2 separate regions of the Homo sapiens genome follow, and region 1 is linked to region 2. A link means that fine-mapping ties the variant in region 2 to the expression of a gene that starts in the linked region. Tissue or cell type: whole blood. Region 2 holds a variant in brackets; the other region holds the start of a gene. All regions are shown on one strand. Distances are between the middles of the regions.

Region 1 (8,105 bases), 110 kb after region 2:
TGTCAAGCCCAATTAAGCCACCTCCTGAGGTCAAGTCCATCAATCTGCAGTGTGATCCAGATCTTAACTCAGAAATTCTCAGGCACAGAAGAAATGGCTTCCGATAAAATAGCAAAATTTGACCCCTCCCCTCCAAAAAGGGAGCATAAAAATAGTACTTGAGTGCCCTCTTCTGGACTGTCTGGGCAAGGGCCTTCCCAAAGAGATCTCTGAGTCTGATTACTCAATAATGGAACCACGAAAGCAGATTGATGGGCTCCCCACTAAAAAATTCAGGGCCAAGTACCAGGCCATGGGGATTTGATAAGTGGTCCCGCTAGAGTCTGCACAGTGATGGCCTTCCACCTCTCCTGGTGGATTTGGAGACAAATCAGAGATCCTGAGCAACTTTTGCTCTGACACTCAGCTTTCAAATATAAACAAGATTAGGGGTTACAAACAAAAATCCAAAGATTTTAGGGGTTATAAACAAGATCCTTCTGTACTCAGGGGACCCAGAGGCCCTATGCCAAGGTTAGAGTTCAACTGAACAGTGGAGAGGAATTGCACTTCTTAGGCCTTTTAGATACCAGTACACAGGTGACTGTGATCCCCACAAACCCTTGCATCAAGATGAGGAGAAAACAGATCGTGTTCTCTGACTTTGGGCTCCTACTAACCTCCGTTGTCATGGCCCCCACTACTGAATGAAATATTGGCAGTGATGTGTTTTCCATGTGCAGCCCCACTTGCCTTTGCCTCCAAGCCCTGACAGGAATTGCAATAGTTATGGCCATCTTAGTGAGAAATATAGAAGACCATGGACCCATCTGATGACCAACACCTAGTACTGTTGTTTCCCAAAAAACAATGTCAGCTGCCTAGGGGAGAAAAAGAATAATTGCCATCATTGCTGAGCTTAAGGAAGCCAAAATGTTTCATGAGACTGTTTCTCCATTCAATAGCCCCATCTGGCCTGTGCACAAGACCTTGGTTTCTTGGAGACTTACCACTGATTTTAGGCAGCTCAATGCGTAATACCACCTTTGGCACCAGCAGTACCTGACATTGTGACTATTACAGAGGCCCAAAACAGAGAGAACTTGGTATGCAGCAATTGATATTGCAAAGGCATATCAAATTGTAGTCCCCAGTGTTGGAGATGGGGCCTGGTGAGAGGCGATTAGATCATAGGGGCAGATTTCCCCTCTAGTTTTGTTCTAATGATAGTGAGTAATCATGACATCTGGCTGTTTAAAAGTGTAGCATCGGCTGGGCATGCCCTCAGCCTCCCAAGTGTCTGGGATTACAGGCACTTGCCACCATGCCCCGCTAATTTTTGTATTTTTAGTAGAGATGGGGTTTTACCATGTTGGCCAGGTTGGTCTTGAACTCCTGACCTCGTGATCTGCCCACCTTGGCCTCCCAAAGTGCTGGGATTACAGGCATGAGCCACTGTGCCCAGCCTAGTCTCTAGCTTTTAACTGGATCTCAGCTCTGGGCAGAGCCCACGCTGAATCCTGGATCTCCAAAAGATAGAATTATCATGATTCTAGACCATGTGATGCATTTGCACTGCACTTTGTTACAAAGACTTTCCTCTAAGTGTCTAAAGTATACCTTTTCTTATCTTAAACACCCGAAGAGTAGCCTCTGTTGTAATAACTTAGTCCAAAAATCAGGTAACACAGTACAAAAGCAAGCAGTTTAAGATCTGAGAGGAACTTGTCTGTTTAGACTCTTGGGGTTCCATAAGGAAAAACAGATGTTTCTCCTCAAAAAGGACTCTAGTGCCTTCTCTGTTTTATTTAAGGAATTACAGGCTGTTAGAAACTATTTTGGGTCCCTCATGCAGCAGAGGGGAACAAGAGAAAGGAGAGATAGGCAGAAGTAAATGGAGAAAACAGAATTCATTTGACTGACTGAGAAGGAAAAAACCTTTTTCTCAAAAAACAAGGTACTAGGAGAGAAAAAAAAAACAGGCCAGGCACGGTGGCTTACGCCTGTAATCCCAGCATTTTGGGAGGCTGAGGAAGGCAGATTACCTGAGGTTGTCGGGAGTTTGAGACCAGCCTGACCAACATGGAGAAATCCCATCTCTACTAAAAATACAAAATTAACTGGGTGTGGTGTCGTATGCCTGTAATCCCAGCTATTTGGGAGGCCGAGGCAGGAGAATTGCTTGAACCCGGGAGGTAGAGGTTGCAGTGAGCCAAGATCGCACCATTGCACTCCAGCCTGGGCAACAAGAGTGAAACTCCTTCTCAAACAAACAAAACAAAACAAAAAACCATAAAGGCCTTTTAAATATACACACACACACACACATCGTGGATATTAGCTTTTAATTAAACTGACTTTTAGCCACTAAGCTCTTAAAAAATTCTTCTAAATCTCACTACCCTATTTTAGCTGGAACAAATTGCTGATATTTCAAAAATAACACAAATATCAAACCAGAAAGAACTTGATTTAGGAACCAAACCCAGGCTGTTGTGGTGGAAAAAAGGGCAAAACCTTAGCTACAGAACTGCAGTGTGGAGCACAGTTTGGCTTGGCTAGCAAAAGGTGGCCTTGTTATGTAAATAAAGCCCCTCAGGTAGTCAAAATCTTTCTTTTTTCCTGTTGATGGCTGTTTATCCTTTTCCCTTTTCCCCCCCAGCTGCAGGAATTTACCCAATGCAGAGGCGTTGTTCCTCACCATTTGTAACTTTCCTTCACATTTGATATAGTTGGGTAGAGTTAGTCAAATCCAATGGGAAAAAGACCAAAACAACAAAACAAACAAATAAATGAAAAAACAGTTTGGCAAAACAAACAAATGATCATACTATGTATACAATTCCTGAGCACTCTAATGGTAAGGAGAAATTAAGAGCTGCTGGTTGTTAATCTTAACTTTAGGTCATTAAGGAGAATTTTCAAGATAAAACCCCAATTCAGCTACTTACCTAGGAATGGAGTCCAGGCTCAACACTGCTCTCTACCAGCCTATAAGCAGGAAAAAAACTCCAACTCGCCTTCCCTGTTGGAATTGAGCTGAAACTCCAGAAAGGAGTTGCCTGCCCTCCATCATCATGGAAGCAGGAAAACTCACCTTCCTTGTTGAAAGTGAGTAAAACTCCAGAAAAGGAGTTGTACAGCAAAAAAAAACCTTAGATATCGACCAAATTTGGGGAGATCAGGGTGAGGGAAGAGACGGACCCTCTCATATTGTTTTATATTGTTTTATACTCAGTACCTGTTTTAAGAAAAAAACAAGGAAGTGAAACCAAGGGCAGGCAGCCAGGCACCAGACCCAAAACCAGAACTGAAACCAGGCCTGGGCCTGCCTGGCCTAAACCTAGTAGTTAAAAATCAACTCATGACTTAGCAACCGATGTTATCCATAGATTCCAGACATTGTATGGAAGAACGCTGTGAAACTCCCTGCTCTGTTCTGTTTCACTCTGACTACCGGTGCATGAAGCCCCTGTCACATACCCCCTAGATTGCTCAATCAATCACGACCCTTTCATGTGAAATCTTTAGTGTTATGAGCCCTTAAAAAGGACAGAAACTGTGCACTCGAGGAGCTCGGATTTTAAGACAGTAGCTTGCCGATGCTCCCAGCTGAATAAAGCCCTTCCTTCTACAACTCAGTGTCTGAAAGATTTTGTCTGCAGCTCGTCCTGCTACAAGGGATTGTCTGGAGGGGGGAAGTTCCCAGGCCTCAGCAAATCTGCCTATTGATTTGAGCAATAAAGATATCTCAAGCTGGTACCAAGCAGTAATAGAAGATTTGTCAAAGGTCAGGGGCACCTCCACTCAGAATCCCTTGGTGGTTACCAATTTGTAAACCAAAAAGTATCTGAGCTAGGTCTCAATTAACTTGGAAATTTTATTTTACCAAGGTTAAGAACATGCATCTGGAAGGCAGGTCTATGCCTTTTTCCAAAGAAGATTTTGTGGACTTCAGTATTTAAAGGCAAAAGGGCAGATATTGGGGGAAAAGGAAAAAAAATTAAAGGTGTGGGTAGATAACAGACAAATGGTTGCATTATTTTGAGTGTTTGATAAACCTTTCACTGAATACACAGTTTACATGTGAGAGAAGGGTAGAGGAATAGTTACTTATGCCTTTGTCAGCTCAGTGAATCTGCATTTTTACATTAGGAAAGCAATCAGATATGCATCTGTCTCAGATGAACAGAAGGATGACTTTGAGTTCTGTTCTTTGTCTAGAACCTGTGAAGATAAGCTATCAATTTACATTGTCAGGGTAAAATTCAACAGAACCATTTTAAGGTAAACATCTTGGGGCTCAAAAGGAATGTCCCAGTGGACAAATTGTGAGACATGTATGTAGCTTTTTTTTTTGTTTGTAGCTATCTTATTTAAGAATAAAATGGGAGGTAGGTTTGCCTGATGCAGTTCCCAGCTTGACTTTTCCCTTTGGCTTAATGATTTTGGAGTCCTGAGATTTATTTTCCTTTTACAAGACATTACCATTCCAAAAGAATGAATATGGGAGGCATAAAGTGGTTTCTTGTCCCAAGTAAGTTCAAAATTTAGCATGGCAGGGCCAGGTGTGGTGGCTCACGCCTATAATCCCAGCACTTTGTGATGCTGAGGTGAGTGGATCACTTGAGGTCAGGAGTTCGAGACCAGCCTGGGTAACATGGTGAAACCCCCCTCCTCGTCTCTACTAAAATACAAAAATTAGAGGGGCATTGTGGTGAGTTCCTGTCATCCCAGCTACTCAGGAAGCTGAGGCAGGAGAATTGCTTGAACCTGGCAGGTGGAGGTTGCAGTGAGCTGAGATTGTACCACTGCACTCCAGCCTGCGTGACAGAATGAGATTTCATCTCAAAAAAGTAAATAAATAAATAATTAGCATAGCTAATTCCATTAGATTTCAAGGCCTAGGAACAATCCTCTTTAGCTCAATGTTCTGCCATCTGGTCTTGCAGTGATCCACCAGCTTCTGTGCCACCCTCATAATTCACTCTTCCTTTTTCTTGAAGGCTAATGTGTCTTTGCAGTCTAGTAGCCCTGTCAGCTCATATCCTGCCTATAGATTTCCAGAAGTCCAACAGTCTTCCTTCATTTCATCCCATATCTATCTCCTTTACTCCAAGATGCCAGTATTTCTGTTGATATAACATTCTCAAAATCCTTATCAGTCTCGTGTGTGTTATGGGAGTCCATGTCATTAGACAAGATCCTTCCTGGATAAACCCATCTCTATTCCTGCCTTCAGCTGATATGGTTGATTGGATCCATGAATCACATATATAATCTCTTTAGCAAGATTGTCCAGCCATACTGTTGGCCTTCTCTTCAGAGTATGCTTTTGCGACAATAAATTTTCTAATTTTGGCATCCTTTGGAATCACGATAGGCTGAGAACCTCCAAAATCAAGTGCTAGTTACTTTTTGCCTAATAGTTCTTTCCTCAATTTATATCTTTCACATTGAAATGGGAGAGTTCACTGACCCCCCTTGCAGGGCCTGCAACAGGGGTGTGGCTCGTCTGTTTGGCCACTGCATGCTCAAACCCCTTATGGGAGGGGGAGCACGCATTTGAGCTAGGGCAAGCACTTTTGGGCTCTGGGCCTACAGCAATATCCAGGGATGTTACAATGCTCCTTTAGCCCTGCCATCCAGGGACAGCTTAAGTGTTAAACAGCTCAGTGCCCTCTTGGTACTGGGTTCCTGTCCAGCATCCAGGAAGAATCAGGTCACACAGACAAATTGAAGGATGGTAAATGTGGCGTATTTTATTGCTGGATGGAGGTGGCTCTCTGCAGGATGGATGGGGAGCTGGAAAGGGAATGGAGTGGGAAGATAATCTTCCCCTGGAGTTCAGTCGTCCCTTGGCTGATCTCCTCTCCTACCGTCCCCAGCCTAACTCCTCTTGATGTTCAGAAGCTCCTTCTCTTCTCTCCTTCTCTGCCACACCACTCTTCTGTTCCTCTGCTCTTCTGCTTGTCTGCTCATCTGCTTGTGGATCCTGGGGTTTGGAGTTTATACAGGTACAGGATACAGGGGCGTGGCAGGCCAAAAGGCAGCATTTGGGCACAAAAACAGGAACGCTTGTTCCCATTTAGGGCCACGGGTTTCCAGACTTGAGGGTGGGGCCTTTGCTGGGAAACCACCCTCTTCTACCCAGTATTTCCCTGTCTCCTGTCTGTATCAATATTACATTTTACTATAAGCAGCAAGGAGAAACCAGGTTATGAAGATAAGCTATCAATTTACATTGTCAGGGTAAAATTCAACAGAACCATTTTAGGGTAAAGATCTTGGGGTTCACAAAGAAAAATCTTAAGGATTTTGCCTGTAAATTTCTGCCAAATATCCAAGTTCATCACTTTCAAGTTCTGCTTTCCATGTGACTGAAGAACATAGTTCAGCCAAGTTTTCTGTCACTGTATAACAAGCATTGCCTTTCCTCCCATTTTCAGTAACATTTTCTTCATTTCTTTCCAAGACCTCTATACAATCAACTTTAATATTCCTATTTCTAACAACAGTCTCTTCAGGGCAATTTAGGTTTTTTTCTATCACGCTTCTCAAAAATTTTTCTAGTCTCTATCCATGGCCTAATTCCAAAGCCAATTCCACATTTTAGGTCTTTAGTACAGCAACATCCCACTTCTAGTTTCAAAATCTGTATTAGTCAGGGTTCTTTCAGAAAAAAAAAAAAAAAAAAACCAACAGGGTATATATGTATTTGATTTGTTTCAAGGAATTGCCTTAGATGATTGTGGGGTCCAGCTAGGTAAGTCCAAAATCTGTAGGGAACTTGGGAAGCCTAGAAACTCTCAGGTGGAAACTGAGGCTGCAGTCAGCAGGCAGAATTTCTTCTTCCTCTGGGCATATCAGTTTTGCTCTTAAGGCATTTCAACTGATTGGATGAGGCCCACCAAGATTATCCAAGACAGTCTCCTTTACTTAAAGCAACTGATTATAGATGTTAACCACATCTATATAATACCCTCACAGCAGCATCTAGATTAGTGTTTGAATAACTGGGTACCATCACCTAGCCAAGTTAACAAATTAAACTAACCATATCTATTCAACTAATTAAATATAGTAATACAACCAAATAAATGACATTTTTTTCCATGCAGTATTTCAAAATACTTAAGAGTAGGCAACATATTGGCCCAAGGTCAGTGGCTCTGAGGGTAGCTGGACCACATCAGTCAGAACTGCTATAAAATAAAATAAAATAAAATAAAATAAAAAATAAAAAAACCTTCTGGCTAACTGCACTTGCAAAAAATCAAGAGAAATCCAAGATACACAGCACCACTACAGTCTTCTAGCTTCAAATAGTTGTAATATGATTCACTCCTAGCAATAGAGTAAAAAGGTAAAGCTCAAGTTACAAGTTAATTGATATTTTCCATAGCATATACCATAAAGAAAGGTGAAAAATTCAGACCCTAATGCTGATTCTGACCAACTCTCATTTTCACCGGTTATTTTGCAGTCCCTCACTATTCAGCTGTGAAATTCATCTAAGGACATAAACTTAGTGTGTAATTTCTCCTCCGAAGGCAAAGTGGAAAGATATCAGAACTACACATTGACAGATTTAGTAATAGACTTAGTAATGTTGTTAATAGTCTTCTATATCCCTGACTGTCTGTAATAGAAATACAACTACTCGTTCTCTTTCTTCCTTTCCAGAGAAATGAGATCTGTGAAGCACAAAATAAAGACTAGAGGCTGTATTACATGAAGTTTGTCATGTAACAAGTCATTGCCTAATTAACATGGAGTAGTACAATAAAAGAGTATCACTCTCAGCATGAAAGCCACCTCCCTCCTTCTGTAAACCTTGCCTTGTATGATGAGGACAACATAAATCACACAGTGCAGGTGTGTTTAAAGTCAGCATCAGAACAAATGTTAAATTGGATAAAATATCAATATCAAAAATGATTTTTTCTTACTTACTAGACCCTGATGTCATCTGTGGAATTGCTGTATATACATGGAATATCACTATCTTTACAGTAGTTATACATTTTCAGATCTTCATATTATCTGGTTACAGATCTTCATATTATCTGGTTACCTTTAGCACTGAACATGCAACTCCTTATTCCAAGTGACAACTACACTCT
Region 2 (8,109 bases):
GCAGGGGGAAGCATATTACAGAAGCGAGAAACAAAGACAGTTATTTAATTAATTGAGAAATGCATTACAGCATTTCTTACTTTTCAAGGAAAAACATGTTTTACAACTTGAGTTTATCTGTCTAGTGACCTTGCAGCTGCACAGCTAGAGAAACAGGGTCTTCACAATGTCTGGGAAAGGAGGAGAGATAAGGCTCACTAGCCACAGAAAAACAGGCAGTTAATTTTTAAAGGACTCCAACTCTTTCTCTTTCTCAGGGGGAATTGGGTTTTCTTACATACAACTGAGTTTCTCCTTACACATTCTTTAATTTCTTTTAATTCCTATTCCAATACCATAAAAGCAATTAAGGACAGGTCTAGAGTTAGTTAAAGACAGGTGGAGGTGGTGATAGAGAGGACAGGGTTACATTGGTAAGGGTGACAGTTAGAAGGGGAAGTCCTTTTAGTGAAATAGATGAGAGGTTTTAGATCTGCACAAACCTTTTTCATGGAAGTCCAACTTTGCTCCTGGGTAGTTTAAAGGACGTAGTCCCATGTACCACAAGGTTGCCAGGCTATAGGAGCAGAAAATCAGCGTCTTGGCTGCAGGTGATCACAACGATGAGTGCTAGGGGTAACTGTGTCAATTAGAGGGCCGAGGCATAAATAATTGTGTGAAAAGGCTAGCTGTCATTGATCTTTTACATTTCCACAAGGTATGACAGAGCAAGCATAAAAGGCAATGGTCTGAGGTGACTCAGACTTAGTTACATTAATAACAAAGGAGCTAGTAACAGAATAAGGAAAGGAAAAGAAGCAATATAGAAGGTATATGAAAATTAAGCTTTCTTTAACTTTAACTTAGTAAGGCTTAATCCTAGTACAGTAACCCATGATTCTGACGAGGAAGATGTTTTCTTGACTTGAGTATGGTGGGTCCATCCTTTCTCAGCTGTGAGGATGGCAGTCTCAGTGGTTAACAGCATAAAATAGGGTCCTTCTCAGGCTGGCTCGAGTTTTTTTCTTTCTGTCTTTTGATGAGGATGTGGTTTCCAGGCTGCTGCTGGTGTACTGGAAATTCTAGGGCTGGTACCCGTGCTAAAAGACTTTTAGTTCTGAGGGAAGGGAAAGTGGAAGATAAAAAGTATATAATTTTTGCTGCATATTCTGGGGCTTGAGGTCCCATGGTGATGCCTCCCACTCCATTCCTGCTCAGCACCACTCACAGGATGCTGCAGCCCTGCCCCCTCTTAAGGTCTTGGCCTTCTAGTGGCCTTCATCTCCCCTGCACATTGTGGCCTTGGGGATGAGGAGCTTGTGACTTACCCAGCTGCCCTCGGACCTTAAGAAAGCTAAACACCATTTTATATTTGACAATGCTTTTTGTATGATTTTGTACCAGGTAAGTTAAATTTTACCTTTATATTAATGTGCTATTAATGTTAAACTTAATTTTAATAAAATCTTGTAGATATTATCCAATTTTAATGTCTGACTATAAGGTAAGATTTTTATAGACTCTTTTTAACATGTTAAATTTTTTGTTAAAGAGCAGGTTAGTGCTTTAAGAATAAACTATTGTGGTTTTATTTTAATGTTCAGTTCACAGCAAAACTGGATGATAAACCCTTTACCTTTAGCCAAAATGTTTACACACAGAATTTCCTTTACAATTAACATGTTAAAACTTGCTTAAACCTTTAAAACAAAAATTTTTAAACCTTTTAATGTAGGTAAAAATCCATATTCTTATGCCTCCTTATAATCCTTTTATTAAAAGTATATTTTATTTTTCTTACATACTTTGTACATAAACTGTTTTTTTAATAGTTTTACATTCAGGAGGCCTAATTACTTTTAAATTATACAATATTTCTTGCATAAATTCCCTTTATAACCTTTCTTACGACTTTCACAGACAATCTTCAACATGTCTTAACTTTCTGCCTTCCTTTTACACTATTTCTTTTCCTAGTTTCACCCTCTGTCTTTCTTTGATTTCTGTCTCTTACTTATTCTTTCCCTCTATTTCTCTCTCTCATTTGCACTCTCTTTTTTTCTCTCTCTCTCCGTCATCCCTTGTTCCTTTTTCCCTCCCAAGTTCTCCTGCTCCTGCCGGCCGGCAAGGCCGGGCAATGGCATGGGTCCCGCCCCCACACACACACTGCCGTCTGTTTCATCTGCTTTTTTTTTCTTTTCCCAATTTCCCTTTTTACTTTTTTCCTTTCTTCTTACACTCAGTTTCTTGGGCTGGGTGGGATTTGTGGGGCTGCAGTCCAGACCCCGGGCCATCACTGGCCCAGAGGCTTGGCAGATGCCTGCTGCAAGTTGCAATAATTATGCCCTTTCACCTCCTCTGCTCTCCTCCTGGCGCCGTTCCCCACCCTCTTTTTCACATAGAGCTGGGCTGGGGAGAGGGACTTAACCCTTGGTGCGCCTGTCTGGTGTCACGCTTGCTGTTTTTGCTCTTTCTCTCTGACTTCCTTTCCTGGTTTCTTTTTCCTCCCTGCTGGACTTCGCCTCTGCCAGCCACCTATGCTGCTGTTTTCCCCCCTCTCCTTCCCCTTCCCCTAGGGGAGCAACTGGTGGGAGTGGAGCTTAGCCTTTTTCTTTTCCTGAGAAGAGAGGAAAGGGGAGTTTTGAATATATATTTACTACCGGAGGTTTGTGTGAGATTCAACCCCCACAATGGGGATTTCTCACCTCTTTGAGGTTCAATCCCCCAATGGGGATTTCTCACCTCTTTTTGAGGTTCAACCCCTACAATGGGGATTTCTTACCTCTTTTTAAGGTTTAACCCCCCCAATGGGGATTTCTCACCTCTTTTTAACCACCCCAAGGAAATACTTTACCGGCTCTCCCAGTGTTTTTTTTTCGTCGATTTGGGCACAGAGTTTCCTGGTTCACGTGGATGTGAGGATCCTTTACTCCAGATCGCCAGCCAGTTTTTGTTTTTTTTTTCCTGCGTTGCTGAGAGTCTGGGTTTATTCATCACACCAGGTGGATCTTAATTCCATATCCCTGAGGCCACTGCAATGAGGCAGAGGAGTGTGCTCCCTCATGAGAAAGGACTGGAGACCGCCCCCAGAAGAGAAC[G/A]TATCCATGTACGGATTTCCACCAAAATTGTTAGAAATGCTTGTTTCCCAGTGCCATAAAGAAATTTACTTGAACATAAATTTAATTTCCTCAGCAAGGGCATTTTTACTTTCTGCAGAAAGGGTACACTCGCCAGCTGTTCTGCCATGAGAGTACACTGAACAAGGGAGACAGGGTCATTTATAACCTGACATGTCCACCCTACTGCTATGTCCAGTCTCCATTGGCTGGAATGGAACCTCACATTCTGTATTAGTCCTGATTGGCTAGCAACTTAGAACTTTTTAAAAGAGGCAAAGGCAGAGGAGAACAAAGGAAGGAGGAAGTAATTTATGGAATGCTGAGAAAGGTAAAAACACCTTCAAATAAGGAAAAGGAACAGGCTATCCTAATGCTTGCTTGGACCAGTATAAGCATGCCAGGGCAAATATTTAGGCTAAATTGTGGAAGCTAAGAACATAAAGTACATTGATTTCTTTATTACAGCTCACAGATATTTAAGAATGTTAGCCCAGGTCTTTGAATAAATTTTGCTTCTAAGAGAAGTTACTATTTCTTCCTAATTAGATGGGGAGGAAAGTCTTTGAAGAGGAACCTCTACTTTACTTTTCACAATCATGAAATGAAATTAGAAACCAATAGCAGAAGGGAAACTGGGAAATTCACAAATATGCGGAAATAAATAATATGCTGTTAAACAACAAATGGATTGAAGAAGATATCACCAGGGAAACTAGAAAATACTTAGAGATGCATTAAAATGAAGACACAAACTCCCAAAACCTATGAAATGCAGCAAAAACAATGCTCAGAGGAAAATCTATACCTAAAAACACCTACATTAAAAAAGAAGAAATGTGCAAAATCAATAATCGAACTTACACATTTAGAAACTAGCAAAGGAGAGGAAACTAGACCAAAGCTAGCAGAAGGAAGGAAATAATAAAGAATGGAGACAAACAAAATAGAGAATAGGAAAGCAATATAAACTATCAGCAGATCCAAAATGTGGTTCTCTGAAAGATCAACAAAGTTGACAAACTTTTAGCCAGACTAACAAAAGAGGGAATATCAAAAACTAAAATAAGAAATGAAAGAGGGGATAATACTGGTAAAAAAAAAAAAAAAAAAAAAAAAAAACCAGACACATAGACCAATGGAAAAGAATAGAGAGCCCAGAAATAAAGCTGCACACCTATGGCCATTTGATCTCTTACAAACTTGACAAAAATAAGCAATGGGGAAAGGACTCCCTATTCAGTAAATGGTGCTGAGATAGCTAACTAGCTATATGCAGAAGAATGAAACTGGGCCCCTACATATCATATACAAAAATTATCTGAAGATGGGTTATCATATACAAACATTTTATCATATACAAAAATTAACTGAAGATGGGTTAAAGATTTAAATGTAAGATATCAAACTATAAGAACCCTAGAAAATCTAGGAAACACCATTCTGGACATCAGCCTCAAGAAAGAGTTTGTGAGTAAGTCCTCAAAAGCAATTGCAACAAAAACAAAAATTGACAATTGGGACCCAAGTAAACTAAAGCACTTTTGCATAGCAAAAGAAGCTATAAACAGAGTAAATAGACAACCCACAGAATGGGAGAAAATATTCACAAACTATGCATCCAACAAAGGCCTACTATCCAGAATCTATAAGGAAACAATTCAAGAAATAAAAAACAAGTAACTCCATTAAAAAGCAGGCAAAAAACACATGAACAGACACTTTTCAAAAGGAGACATACAAGTGGCCAACAAACATTTGAAAAAATGTTCAATATCACTAATCATCAGAGAAATGCAAATCAAAACCACAATGAGATACCATCTCACACCCATCAGAATAGCTATTATTAATAAATCAAAAAACAACAGATGCTGGTGAGGCTGCAGAAGAAAGGACACTTACACACTGTTGGTGGAAATGTCAATTAGTTCAGCCACTTTGGAGAGCAATTTGGAGAATTCTCAAAGAACTTAAAACAGAATTATCATTTGACCCAGCAATCCCATTACTGGCATACATCCAAAAGAAAATAAACTGTTCTACCAAAAAGACACATTCACTCATATATTCATCACAGCAATATTCACTGTAGTGAAGACATGGAATCAACCTAGGTGCCTATCAATGGTGGACTGGATAAAGAAAATGTGGCACACATACACCGTGGCATACCGTGCAGACATAAAAAGAATGAAATCATGTCCTTTGCAGCAACAAGGATGCAGCTGGAGGCCATTATCCTAAGTTAATTAACATAGGAACAGAACACCAAATACTGCATGTACTCACTTATAGTGGTAGCTAAACATTGGGTACTCATGGACATAAAGATGGCAATAATAGGCACTAGGGACTGATGGGGGGAGGTAGGGAAGGGGGCAAGGGTTGAAAAACTAACTGTTGGGTACTATGTTCACTAGTATCCCATCCGGATGACAGGACCATTCAGATCTCAAACCTCAACATCATGCAATATACTCATGTAACAAACCTGCACATGTATCCCCTGAATCAAAAATAAAAGCTGAAATTATTTTTTTAGAAAAAGAAGAGGGGATGTTACCACTGATTTGACAGAAATAAAAAGGATTATAAGAAAATACTATGAACATTGTATTTCAACAAATTAGATGCCCTAATACATTGAAAAACAATTCCTACAAACACACAAACTACCAAAACTGACTCAAGAATAAATAGAAAATCTGCAAAGACTTATAACAAGTATGATATTTGACAATAGTGCCAAACCATTCAAAGTGAAACCACTTCCTCTGGGGCAATACCTGTAGTTAGTTGTCTCGCGCCGATGATTAACAACATGGACACACACGTGGAGTGGGTTAAGGAGCAGAAAGTTTAACAGACAAAAAGGAAGAGAGATAGAATAAGCTTCCTCATGCTGAGAAAGCGGGTCACCTGAGAGAGGGTTTCTGGGTTAGGTGCAGAACGTGATCAATTTTGTACAAAGGCTTGAGGAGGCGGTGATTGATTTACATAGAGCCCAGGGGATTGGTTTGACCAGGTGCTCCATTTACACAGTCCATGAAAAGACTGGCCCTCCAACCCTAATCTTTTATTATGCAATTATGGCTTCTATCTGACTGTCACCATGACACCTGCACATGTGACTTTACCTGGCTAGTGCCATGACACCCGCACACGTGGCCACAAAGAAAAGGGAGCGAGAATCGCCATATTGAATGTACCTGGCTTCCAGGTACAGCTGATGGCATTTACATATGAAAGCTAGCTTGCATAGCTATGCTTGCAGCTTGAAGTTTCAGGCTGCTTTCTGTTAGAAAAGAAATGGTTTGGGGGCTGCTTTTTATTAATGGAAAATTCCACCAAGAACTCTTTACCCTTTCTAATTGCCTAAAATAATTTTTAATAACTGCTGTATTAAAAGGATATGTGTACCGAAACTAAGCCAAAACACAACTTTAATAGGCTTAAGATCTCTGTGTGTTTGCTCCTAGACAAAACAAATGGGGTACAGAACAAACAAAAACATGTTGATAGGAGAGAGAATGGATCATGGTCTTTCATAGAGCATTCTGTGCTTCTGGACTCAGAAAAGCTGTCAGACACCTGTTTATGGTTTATTACAGCTACAGAAAACACATTAAAAACAGCAAAGGAAAAAGGTATCACTTGAAGAGAGCAGATATTCACATTTCAAATTAAATACTTCAGGAAATCCAGTTTAAATAATTGAAAGCAAAACTCAAATGCCAAAAGTGGGTAAATATTTAGTCATATTTTCTTGTAAGTTTCTTTAGATTAATTGTTGATATTATTGTTGCTGCTGTTGAATATCCATTGTCTTCCTATCCTTAACACTACAGGAACACAAATACGTCATTGTAGATATATTAGCGTAAGCCATTCCCTACTCTTCTAACCAATTCTGAACTCTTAACCGTGTGATTTCAAATAAAAAATTTTCCCACGATATGCTCTGTAGTAAAGATATAAATAGGTTTGTAACAATGACATTTGGGGAAATTTATCAGGGCTTTACATGTATTTACATAATAGAAACAGGCAGAGAATGCTTAAGGACACTAATCCCATTTGTGAAGACTCTACCCTCATGACCTAATAACCTACCAAAGGCCCCACTTTCTAATACAATCACATTAGGGGTTAGGATTTCAACGTATGAATTTGGCGGGGACACAAACATTGAGTCTATAGCACTGTCATATACTAGTGTTCTGTAGCAGATTAGCAAATTTATGAACACACAGTTTCACAATTTCTAGAGGAATATGCTTCCTCATTGTATAATTTTTCATGTTCATTAACAGAACCAGATGTATTTAGCTTCACTATATCATATAAAAATAAAACACCAGGCCGGGCACGGTGGCTCATGCCTGTAATCCCAACACTTTGGGAGGCCAAGGCAGGTAGATCATGAGGTCAGGAGACTGAGACCATCCTGGCTAACACAGTGAAACCCCATCTCTACTAAAAATACAAAAAATTAGCCAGGCATGGTGGCACGCACCTGTAGTCCCAGCTACTCGGGAGGCTGAGGCAGGAGAATCGCATAAAACCGGGAGGTGGAGGTTGCAGTGAGCCGAGATCGCGCCACTGCACTCCAGCCTGGGCGACAGAGGGAGACTCCATCTAAATAAAATAAAATAAAAGAAAATAAAACACCAAAAGCATATAAACTTAAAACTTAGGTTCAGTAATTAGTGTTTAAGTGGTTTATCTTACTTAGAAAAGATCTAGGTTCTTATTTTAGGCAAACATAACATTAAACAAAGCTAGCCATCATTTGAAGTTATTTCCCTATTAACTATTTTTACAGGATGTCCATGTTTGACTGGCATCACAAAAGCAAAAACCTAAAAAGTTAAATGCATGAGTTTGTTGTTTTACTGCTGTGCTTGACACACATGACGTAATGGAATCGGACAATTCAGTTTTACCTGCATCTTTACTTGTACATTTGTTGTTAGTTTGGATTATATTTATTATTATTATTATTATCATT

Evidence for each region. PIP is the estimated chance that this variant, and not a neighbour inherited with it, causes the effect.
Region 1: RHOXF1-AS1 starts here. The variant in region 2 is fine-mapped to the expression of RHOXF1-AS1 in whole blood (TOPMed, PIP above 0.99).

The regions. Positions count from the first base shown.
Region 1 is chrX:120,031,358-120,039,462 of GRCh38, reverse strand. It overlaps RHOXF1-AS1 (RHOXF1 antisense RNA 1), which reads right to left and starts at 3,227. Exons shown (of 5, transcript NR_131238.1): 1 at 2,931-3,227.
Region 2 is chrX:120,138,625-120,146,733 of GRCh38, reverse strand. RHOXF1-AS1 (RHOXF1 antisense RNA 1) reads right to left here. Exons shown (of 5, transcript NR_131238.1): 3 at 7,615-7,736; 4 at 2,834-3,011; 5 at 1-1,096. Among named protein-coding and RNA genes, the nearest start is that of RHOXF2, 16 kb to the left of the region's middle. The variant G/A (reference allele first, on the strand shown) is at 3,078.